Homo sapiens: one gene and its partners. The protein of the gene in region 2 purifies or fractionates together with the protein of the main gene of each other region. This does not show direct contact. Each region holds a gene or a part of one and is shown on either strand. Other genes may lie near its edges. The genes, in order: MACROH2A2, MTHFSD and ZNF346.

Region 1 (3,728 bases), on a different chromosome or scaffold from region 2:
ATTTATTTATTTATTTAGTTTTTGTTAAATTTTTTATTGGTGGTATTTGGTTACATGAGTAAGTTCTTCAGTGGTGATTTGTGAGATTTTGGTGTACTGAACCTGATTTGTAGTCTTTTATCCCTCACCCTCTTCCCACCTTTCCCCTGAGTACCCAAAGTCTATTATGTCATTCTGATGCCTTTGTACCCTTACAGTTTAGCTTCCACTTATGGGTGAGAACATACAACAGCATCCTGACTTAAATGACCATTTTTTTCTACAGTCAAGCTTCTACAACGAGGCTTTGAAAAAGAGACAGCAGTCAGTAATTTGAGGATTGGGAGCTATAATTATAGGCCAGGGTGTCACAGGTGGGGTTCGGTCACACCGATGAATCACCTTGACAAAGGATCTAGACTCACGAGACGGCTTATTTTTAAAGCACTCTTTCGAGATCATTCTCTTCAGAAGTATGCAAATCAAAATGCTTTCATCATACATTATTTTAAATCTAGAAATAAGAGATCTTAGAGCTTTTAATGATGGAATTGAAATTTAAAAAAAACTTTAAACATTGTTTTCATGAACATGAAATTCACAGTGTCATCCCTAATGGACTCATGTACTGTTTTAAAATTGCTGAAATTTATTCAATTTATTCATTTTTATCCTCTATGATATTTCCCTAATCTGTGGTATTGTGCTTCAGAATATTTTATATTGCAAATATTATGAAAAGTGATGGAGACACTGCAATGAAGCATCTTTGTCAGTTCAGAATAATCCTTTGGGAGAATACATTGAGATGAAATAAAACAAAACTAGGTAGGAAATGAGGGGATTCAATATAAATATATTAACTATACATTGAAATATATTTTAAAGGGTATGAAAAAAATCTTAGCTTCCCACCTAATAGAGTTTGACTGTATTTTGGTGTGTTACCCTAAGTACTGTATTAAAATAATAATAGTTTGTTAGCATTATTTTGTAGCTGTAAAAATCATTTTCAGTAATAAGAGCTAAATCACTGGCTCTATTACACTTCCATTTATGAACTCCAAGGGCAAATCATTATAGTATAATACTTTCCAAACCATTTTCTTTCAAGGCCACCTTTAAGTGAATGAGAATAGTCAATAATTTTATCGTCATATATGTTACAGCACATTAACAATTTATAACGTAAAGGGCTATATCAAATGCAATTTCATCAAAATGGCACGCAGATCAAATTAACCAAATTAACCAACCATGAATGTTAGAACCAAGCATTAATCCAATTTATTTAAATTATACTATTGGATAACAAATCATTCCCTTTTAAAAAAGTATTTCAAGTCACGTCGTGTAGTGGGAAGTTCAACTGCCGGCACATTCTTTGTCATTCAGAGGCAGAGCATGTGTGGTCACTCTAGAGGAGCTGGGGACAAGGGGTAGGGGCATTTAAGGGGTAGATTTAGGATATCTGCTGCTACTGCAGGATACTAAGACATTTTAACATGTTTTGTTGTCTCTGTTGAACCTGAGCTGTGGTTATTTTAAAAAAGAGAAATGCAGAAGTTGTTGATCTATAATGTAGCTTGTTTCTTTATTATTGGCCTTATGCTATTTTCTAATATAAATACGTTTGGCCACCTGTGGTACTTGGATGAGAAATGAATGAAAATAATTTTAGTTTTCTTTGAATCTGAGTTAGCAATGCATTCCTAAAGAAAGCCAACCAGAAAATGAACCAGTTTGCCTTCCTGAATCTATTCATCCACAGAAAACAAAACAAAAACACCCTCACTGGGTCCAGCCTGGTCTCTTCTTGTCTTTTTGTTCTTTGAGGCTTGACAAATAGGAGCAGTGGGATTTCCATAAACAATATTTAAAATTATACTGGGATCTCAGAAGGGAGGAGAGGAAAGAAAGAAAAACCCCTTAGCACATGCCCTTATTGAATGAATTGCTTTTGGGGAGAAAGGATAAACTTTATTTAACATGCTGATGGCCTTCATAAAAAGACAAAGTAGTCTGGTTTCTTTAAACCAATATTTCTTTTTTCTTTTTTTTTTTTTTAGACAGAGTCTCTGTCACCCAGGCTGGAGTGCAGTGGCCCAATCAGCTCACTGCGGCCTTGACATCCTAAGTTCAAATAGTCCTCCCAACTTAGCCTCCCAAAGTGCTGAGATTACAGGCATGAGCCACTGAGACCAGCTTGACCAAGATTTTCTTTTAATTTAAATAAGTTCTTTATCAAGTATAACAGTGGTTAAACTATCTTGTTTTCTGCAAATCTAACAGATCCAAATTAGTAATGCAGTTTATTGTTATAAGCAGCACATTCTTTACTTCTCTGAGCAGGGCACTGGCTTTGTCTGAGCCAAGATGAGATTCCCAAATGGGAGTAGAGGTGTGCAGGCGCACCGTTAGGGGCTAGGGTGAGTGTTCCAGTACCAGACAGCAGGTGGACTGTATGCCTTGGTGTGCCTGATCCACCAGGGGCTTCCAGAGACATCCATGTTTGCTGAGCAACTGAGTTCATCAGTGGGGCCAGTTGTCTGCTCTCAAAGCTAGAACAACAGACTGCTCTGGAACCCCTCTTCCTCCATCCCTTTCTCTGCCTGCACCTCCCTACCCATTTTTTCTTGCTGTCTGTCCTTTTTTCTTTTTCTTTCTTTTTTTTTTAAGAGAGTCTGGCTCTGTCGCCCAGGCTGGAGTGCAGTGGTGCAATCTTGGCTCACTGCAACTTCTGCCTCCCTGGTTCAGGAGATTCTCCTGCCTCAGCCTCCCAAATAGCTGGAATTATAGGCGCCCACCACTGTGCCCCCCTAATTTTTGTGTTTTTAGTAGAGATGGGTTTTCAGCATGTGGGCCAGACTGGTCTCCAACTCCTGACCTCAAGTGATCCGCCCACCTCAGCCTCCCAAACTGCTGGGATTATAGTCGTGAACCACCGCACCTGGCCCTGCTGTCAGTCCTCAGGCAGTGGCTGCACTGTGGGGACAAGTGGCTTGGGTCTTTTGCTGCAGTTCTATGTTCTGTGCTCTTGACAGGCAGTGTTGCTCCCTGGTTATGCACGTGTGGGTCCCCTGTAGCTCCTGGGCCCCGGCACATTGTATCAGCTGCTTCAGCTAAGGGCTACCACTGGCCACACCACACCACACCATCCTCTCTGTGGGTGTAACCAGCCACTGGCCACACCACACCATCCCCTCTGTGGGTGAAACCTGCCAAAGTTCAAGGGGGCATCAAGGTGGTAGAATGGAAGGTGCGGTGGACCACGGGGAGGGAGCCTCCAGTTTGGCTGTGACTAGCTGTGGCCTGTAGGCAAATCAGTAGACCTCGTAGGGTTCCCCTTTTGCTTGAACAAAAATTTGTAGGAGGCCAGGCGCGGTGGCTCACGCCTGTAATCCCAACACTTTGGGAGGCCGAGGCGGGAGGATCACTTGAGGTCAGGAGTTCGAGACCAGCCTGGCCAACATGGTGAAACTCTGTCTCTACTAAAAACACAAAAATTAGCCAGGTGTGGTGGCGCACGTCTGTAATCCCAGCTACTTAGGAGGTTGAGGCAGGAAAATCATGAACCTAGGAGGCAGAGGTTGCAGTGAGCCAAGACCACGCCACTGCACTCCAGCCTGGGTGACAGAGTGAGACTCTGTCTCAAAAAAAAAAAAAAGAAATTATACTCTAATATATAAAACAGATGCAAGGGGAGCTGTCCTGGCTGGAGTGGGCAAGTGCCTGGGAACTTCAACAGC
Region 2 (3,728 bases):
GCCAGGACCATTAAAGTAAATCCTGATGCCCCCCAGAAAAGTGCTCGCTTCTTCGTCCTTGAAGTAAGTGCAACTCTGTCTATTTGCCTAACTAGGGGTCTTATCTGGCTTGCCAAAACATCAAAGACCTAGACGTTTTTGCCAGAACACAGGAAGTTAAAGTGGACCCTGATAAACCACTGGAAGGCGTTCGGCTGCTGGTGCTGCAGGTAATTCCACTTCCCTGAGCCGAGCCGAGACCTGGCCGCCAAGGGGGACACCTTTTCCAGGTAGCTGGTCAGTGCACACGTCTGTCTTGCATTTAGAAAGTCGGTGCTTCCGATTCCCTCCAATACAGAAAGTGCCCTTGGTGGTGATTTTTCCAAGAATAGTTCAGAAGCCCTTCAGCTGTTTAGCAATTCAGTCAATCAGGAGTCCCGAATGCTTCTAAATTCAGAGATAAAGGATGTTCAAAACAATGGCTTCCAGGCCCAGTTGGCACAGGAGAGGGAACCCAGGCAGAACCTGTGGTGTTCCAGAATTGAGGAGCTGGAGCTGAAATAGATGACACCACTTTGCCATTTGAAATGAGCATGCTAACAAGCTTGCTGAACACAGAATCATTTGCTTCTGGATGACAGACGGTCACTTGTCATGTTCTGATACTATAAAGACCACGGTTAAGAACTGGAAAGGTTTCTTCTCAACACTGCTGAACTTTTTAAATTCAGGCATGCTTTTGTAATTTTTATTTTTTAACTTCCTAACCAAACAAACACAAAAACTATGGCGTTGAAGCATTCTCAGTTTTGATGTGCTTCATCAGAGGAGGAAGATTACAAGGAAGATTTAGTTCTTTTTGCCACAGTTGTGGTATTATGATGCTTTGAAACATGATAAATCACGAGTAAGAAGTCTGATGTACCCTCAAAAGGTATCGGTTAGAGCACTTGTTCCTCAACTGAAAACATACAGGCCCCTTTTCAAGGAAAACCAGAAAACTCCCCCAGGGTTGATTTAAATTAGTTTATTATAAACTAATTCAATATGATAAACATAAAACTTGGTATAAATTTTAATGCAGATAGCTTTTATGTAACTATAAAACCAAAATAAGCATATAAGTTAAATACAAACAAAACTATAAAATCAGTAACATTCAAATGGCCCCATTAATTTAACGTAATGGTTGATATGGTTTTGCTGGAGCAAATCGCAGCTGATAACATGAGTATAGTACTGGCCATCTCAGGGCAGAATCGTTGTCATTCTGCCTTAACGCTGCCATGCGTTGTGTGCTGACTCCATTCTCCCACCCAAGTTGCCAAGTCAGACTCCTGAGAAGCCCTGGTGAGAGGGGCACTTTCCACACCTCTTGCCGGAGCTGAGAGGAGGGGTCCAGGCTCGTGTGGGAGATCATTTTGTCTGCTGATGGTGGTTCAGCCCCAAGAGAGACTTCCATGTAGGCTCTTCCAGAAGCATAGCTTCCTGTCAGCCTTATTTTCCCAGTTAATGAATCATTTTAATAAGCTAGAAGTAGTAATAGCAGCAGTAGCAAGGAAGGACGGCAGTCGGCAGTCACTGCATTCGAGGCGCAGTTCTGTCTAAATGTTTTCCCTGTATTATGTGGTTTGGTTCTCTACTACTATGGGAGCCATCTCTGCTCCTCTGTGACACTTGAAACCAGAGACAGAGAGGCTCCACCTCAGGTTACCGCACATCAGTCTCAGTACAGCCAGGATTCTGACTCAGCCACCTGACTCCAGAGCCAGTCCTTGCAAGTGTGAAGTTCAGGGTGTTCTCAGCTGTCAGCCCCTCAGAGCAAAAATCAGAAACCTTGACCGTGTGGTCAGCCTTAGCCAAGATGGCCTGGAAGAGGGGTGCAGCCCTGAGCAAATCCCTGTTGCTTCATGCCATCATTTATTCAGGCTGAAGAAACAACTGCATAAGTAACTGAGCTATCTCCCAGGCTGCGTGCTGGGCATAGGATGTAGTGGTGCAAGACTACACACATGTGGTCCCTGAGTTCTGGTGCTTTCAGGGTCCTCAGTGGTTTTTGGAAACTTTAAGGGACTTAAGGATCAGCTGGGATGCAGGTAAAGATGCAAGTTCCTGAGCCCCAGCTGCATGTGGGCAGGCAATGGTGACATGCACAGCCTCAGGCCACACCTACAGGCACAGCAGCCAGTGTCTGACTGGACAGTCCGCAGTGCTGGGGGCACGCACAACCTCAAGCCACAGCTACAGGCACAGTGGCCAGTGTCTGACCGGACAGTCCGCAGTGCTGGGGGCATGCACAACCTCAAGCCACAGCTACAGGCACAGTGGCCAGTGTCTGACCGGACAGTCCGCAGTGCCGGGGGCATGCACAGCTTCCCAGGCCCAACCCCAGACCTGTGAGTCTCTAAAGTGGCATCAGATTCTGTTCAATCAGTACTCCGAGGGTGCTCCAAGTACACAGGCTTAAGCCCCACTGGCTTAGGTGCCACTTGCCAGCTCTGGCCACATGGTGGTATCACTCAAGGAGGTTTGAAGACTGTTGGCCATGCCAGGTTCCAGTCTCTGGAGTGAGGTCTAGACCTCGGTAATTCTTAAAGCTTGCTGGTGATTCTAATGCACACTAAAGGCTGAGATCCACTGAGCCAGAGGATGAGCAGCTTCTAGAAAAGAGAGAGTGATCCCCATATGTGGGGCACAGGACTCCAACACTGCCCATGAGGGAGCCACACTCCACCACTCCCAGAAAAGCAGCAGGCCGCAGTCACAGCTGCCTGTGTTGAAGTACTTCACTCTTGTGGTTGACAAGCCTTTGTTGAAATAGGCCAAACAGATGTCATGGGTCTTTTATTGGTCTTGGGTTGTCATCTCCTGCTCAAAAACTAAAATATACTATTATTTACATGAAAGATTTCACAGATCTTATGATTGCCTTGTGGCTTACCCTTGCATAATCTACAGAGACATCTCAGCCAGTGGTTTTCAAACTTTCGTGTGCATCAGAGTCACTGGAAGGCTCATCGAAGCTCCCCACCCCCAGAGGGGCTGATTCATTTCTAACAGGTGCCAGGAGCGCTGATGCGCTGGCCCAGGGCCCTCACTTTGAGAAGCCCTGTTCTAGAGGTTCTCACAATAGGCATTTGAGAACTAAGTAGAAGTCAAGGGCTATTGGCACGTATCAGTGTATTGATTATCATGATTACTGATCTCTTTGACTGTGATTTGCTGAACAGTCAAACTAGATAGAAATGTTTGAGTAACTAAGGTAGCTATGCCATGCCAGTTTCTAATGACAGCATTATTGTAACTGTGTCGCACTTGGTGCTGAGAGCAGAGGGGGCACAGGAAAGTTGAGGTTGGGATTTTGTCAGAACTGACCTTAGTTTGGATTTCTGTTGTCAGTTTTTACCTGTAACAATTTTGAATGGCAAGTGAAATCAAATTAGCAAGTTTAGTAAACCCTCTGGCTCTTCAGGGTAAGGAGGTGCCGAGTGGTGATTCTAAGAAAAATCGACCCCACACATTATTTAATTAGGTTTTCAAATAAGTAATTTCCTTGGCACACACCAAAAAAAACCATGCGGATAATAGTAATTTGCCTCTTCTCCTGAAATGGTAAAAATACATATAAGAAAGTCCTATGGAATAATTTGATTTTGTAATTTATTGATTGTCTTTTCTTTAAAAGAGCAAAAAAACATTGTTGGTTCCAACACCACGACTGAGAACGGGATTGTTTAATAAGATCACAC
Region 3 (3,500 bases), on a different chromosome or scaffold from region 2:
TCATTGTCATCATGATCTTTGACTGTGTGTGAACCCCTAAGGGCAAGAAAGTGTTCATCTCTAGGTCCCTTTACCAACAGGGCTGGCCACACAGCTGGTAGGGACTACAAAGTGGTCTTGCAGGCCGGAGGCTCACGGTATGATAGCCCACTCACCCCCTGCCCTTCATTTCCTTGCTTGGTAGATGGGGCTGAATCTGACATACTAGGTGGCTTAGAAGGACTCTGGGGAATTGCTGAGGCAGTCTGATCATGGGAAGCTGAGAACCTCCCTTGGGGCTGTGTAGAGCCTTTCACAGCTGACCAGGAGCAGGGGCTGAGTGGCACTGAATGGGAGCTGAGGCTGCCTGGGCCCCTTCCTCAAATCTGGCTGTCTACAGTAAAGGATGGACAAAGAGCTCTTGAGGCCATAACATTCCTTTCTTTTTTTAAATTTTAAAAATTATTATTTTTAGAGACAGGGTCTTGCTCTGTTGTCCAGGCTGGAGTACAGTGGCATAATCATAGCTCACTGCTGCCTTGAACTCATGGTTAAAGCGATCCTCCTGCCTCACCCTTCCAGGTAGCCAGGACTACAGGAATGCACCACCACACCTGGCTACCTTCTTTTAAAATTTATTATTTATTTATTTTGAGACAGGAGTCTCACTCTGTCACCTAGGCTGGAGTGCAGTGGCACGATCTTGGCTCAATGCGACCCTCCGCCTCCCGGGTTCAAGCAATTCTCTTGCCTCAGCCTCCCAAGTAGCTGGGACTACAGATGTGTGCCACCAGGCGCAGCTGATTTTCGTATTTTTTATAGGGACGGGGTTTTGCCATCATGTTGGCCAGGCTGGTCTCGAACTTCTGACCTCAGGTTATCCACCTGCCTTGGCCTCTCAAAGTGCTTGGATTACAGGCGTGAGCCACGGCGCCCAGCCTTCAAATTTATTTTTATAATTTTTTTTTTTTTTTAGATAGAGTCTTGTTATGTTGCCCTGGCTGGAGTGCAGTGGTTATTCACAGGCATGATCACAGCATACTTCAGGCTGGAACTCCTGGGCTTGAATGGTCTTTCTGCCTTAGCCTCCTGAGCAGCTGGGACTATAGGTGCATGACGCCGCACCTGGCCATAACACTCCTTCTCAGCTCATTTTTGAGTCATGAAAAATGCTCTTTCAAGAATCACCAGGCCTATGATAAGTCCCATGGAACAAACCTATCACTGTGTAAGAGCTGAGCAGGAGAAAACCATCTCTCCTCATACACCTCATTTGTTCATTCAATAAAAATTCATGACACACCACTATGGACATCAGGAAGTAGAGATGAATAAGGCTGGGTCTCTGCCCTAAGTGATTAGCCTGGAAAGCCATACTGGACACAGTGTCCATACTGGCCTCCTTGTCTCCTTTCCTGCCCCTCCCTGCACTCCTTTACATAACAGCCAGAACAGTTCTCTCAAACATAAAGCAGATCCCCAGCTTAAACCCTTTAAAGACCTTCATGAGGCCCTATGTGACAGGAGAAGCAGGAGAAGGTGGTGGATGAGAAGATGAGGCTGTACTGAGTTCAGGGCACCTGAACTCAAGGGAGACTTTCACAGGGTGCTCGACTCTGTCCCAACTCCTAAAGTGACTACTGGGGACTACTGAGGTCTGAATGGGGTGGGGGTGAGGGGTCAAGACAGACATACTAGATCCAATGGCAATATGGCTCAAAACCCTAGGTCTGTTAAGTTGTAGTCTGGCCCATGAGGGAAATTCTTTATTTGGATGCTTCAGTGACCAAGAGACAGAGCATTAGGCACACACAGAAGCACACACATACACACAAACACACACACACACACACACACATCCACACACAATATGCAAAGCAAAGGCATTTCACAGGTGAAGGGATAGGGAGTGGGGGAAGGAGGCCACGAGAGCAGCTAGGGGCTTCTTTGACACAATGAAGAGAAGCCTCTGATGGTGACACTCCTTGGAATTCTCGTCTCAAGGTTACAAGGAAAAATCTATCCGTGTGGACTCAGTCCCAGGCCATAAAACACAGCAAAGATAGAGAAATCTGGGTGTGGGGCCTGGGAAACGCCTGTTCCTCACTGTAGAAACCTGCATCAGCTCTCTCTTTCTTTCCCTGGGACCCAGAAATCACCCGGTGGATGATGGGGAAGGCTAGCACCACAGCAAACTGGGCAAGTGGTCCGCTGCACAAGGGGGAAGAGAGGGCTAGTAGGGCCGAGGGTAGCAATGAACCTCACAGCTAGCGGGCATGAGGCAGTCTGCCTTTAGGGGCAGAACCCTCAGGGAGACTTGCATGTGGGGCACTTTCCCGTGTAACCTAGGGTCAGAGCACCTCTGATGGAGGAGGGGAAAGGTCCCATCCCCATTGGAGTGTCCTATGATCTCAGTGGACATGGAGGCCGCCCCCAGCCCCAGCTCGTTGCCAACTGCTGCAGATCCTTAGCACCATTCAGGAACTGTGGAGGGGGCAGCGGGGGTAGCAATGCTCCGCCAAGATTGTGTCACTGCTCCAGGAGGATACTTCACAGTTGGCAGAAACCTGCGCAACTGGCCATATCTGGTCTAAGACTCAGGAAAGCCTGCACCTTCTGGGGGAAGGCAGAGTGTCGTATTAGCTCCAAGCTCCCATGTTGCAGCCATTTCCTCTGTTTCCTGCCCTGCCCCAGGTTTGGCATGAAAGTTCCAGGTTTTGCTGGAAATGTCTAGGGCCCAGAGAGATCTCTGCTCTTTAGTTGCAAGAACTGGCCCAAAACTGACCTTTAGAGGAAAGACAGGTGGCAGGGGCCTCAGCACCTAAGGCCCAGAGGGGTTGGGAAATGGGGAAAGCCACCCTCCAAACTACCACCCCGCGAGACCCCGAGTCTCTCAATACCCTTGCCTCCCCTGTCATGACCTACAGGACCCCTGCCAAAGGGGAGCAGCAGGAGTGAATTAGCCCGGACCAATGAGAGGCTGTCTGTGGCCCAATCCTGCCTCAGGCCCGTGTACTTTCCTGGTGAGAACAACGAGCAAGAGGGAGCCAAGGGCTGAGCAGTCACGGGAAGCTGGCTCATGGCTGGCCCAATATGGGATGCTGGGCAGAATCACCTCTAGTCTTCCAAGGTGGTTGAGTCTTTCTGAATGGGTTGCCTTTGCATTGGAATCTGGCCCAGGGATGATGCCACTGTTTTTGGTGACCTGTATTTGAGAAGGAACAAAGGAAGAGGGTCAGTGTGTGGCAGCTGTATTGGCCTACTGCAATGATAGCACTGCCCTTCCAGGGCCTTGGAGTAATAGACAGGACACCTTTCCTTCACTGAGGTCCACTGTGGGCTGGCAGAATGCTGGATGCTTAGCTTCCATCATTCCATCCTCATGGCAATTCTGCAAGGTGAGAAACAGCACCCTCATTTTACATACAAGGAAACTAAAGTTCAGAAAGCTTAAGTGGCTGGCCCGAAGTATGTTTTTAGGTGGTAGGTTCAGGACTGTAGCCAATGCCTTTTCACTATAC

What was found.
Region 1: the proteins of MTHFSD (region 2) and MACROH2A2 purify together in Homo sapiens (co-immunoprecipitation; one large-scale study listed by IntAct). This does not show direct contact.
Region 3: the proteins of MTHFSD (region 2) and ZNF346 purify together in Homo sapiens (co-immunoprecipitation; one large-scale study listed by IntAct). This does not show direct contact.

The regions. Positions count from the first base shown.
Region 1 is NC_000010.11:70,059,295-70,063,022, reverse strand, and holds part of MACROH2A2 (core histone macro-H2A.2), read right to left. Parts: intron 1-3,728. UniProt on the Homo sapiens protein: Variant histone H2A which replaces conventional H2A in a subset of nucleosomes where it represses transcription. Nucleosomes wrap and compact DNA into chromatin, limiting DNA accessibility to the cellular machineries which require DNA as a template.
Region 2 is NC_000016.10:86,548,514-86,552,241, reverse strand, and holds part of MTHFSD (methenyltetrahydrofolate synthase domain-containing protein), read left to right. Parts: coding exon of another isoform or gene 1-63; intron 64-95; coding exon 96-209; exon of another isoform or gene 210-269; intron 270-3,664; coding exon 3,665-3,728.
Region 3 is NC_000005.10:177,064,196-177,067,695, reverse strand, and holds part of ZNF346 (zinc finger protein 346), read right to left. Parts: intron 3,185-3,500; coding exon 3,097-3,184; coding exon of another isoform or gene 2,939-3,096; 3' UTR 2,596-2,938; coding exon of another isoform or gene 2,570-2,595; 3' UTR 1-2,569.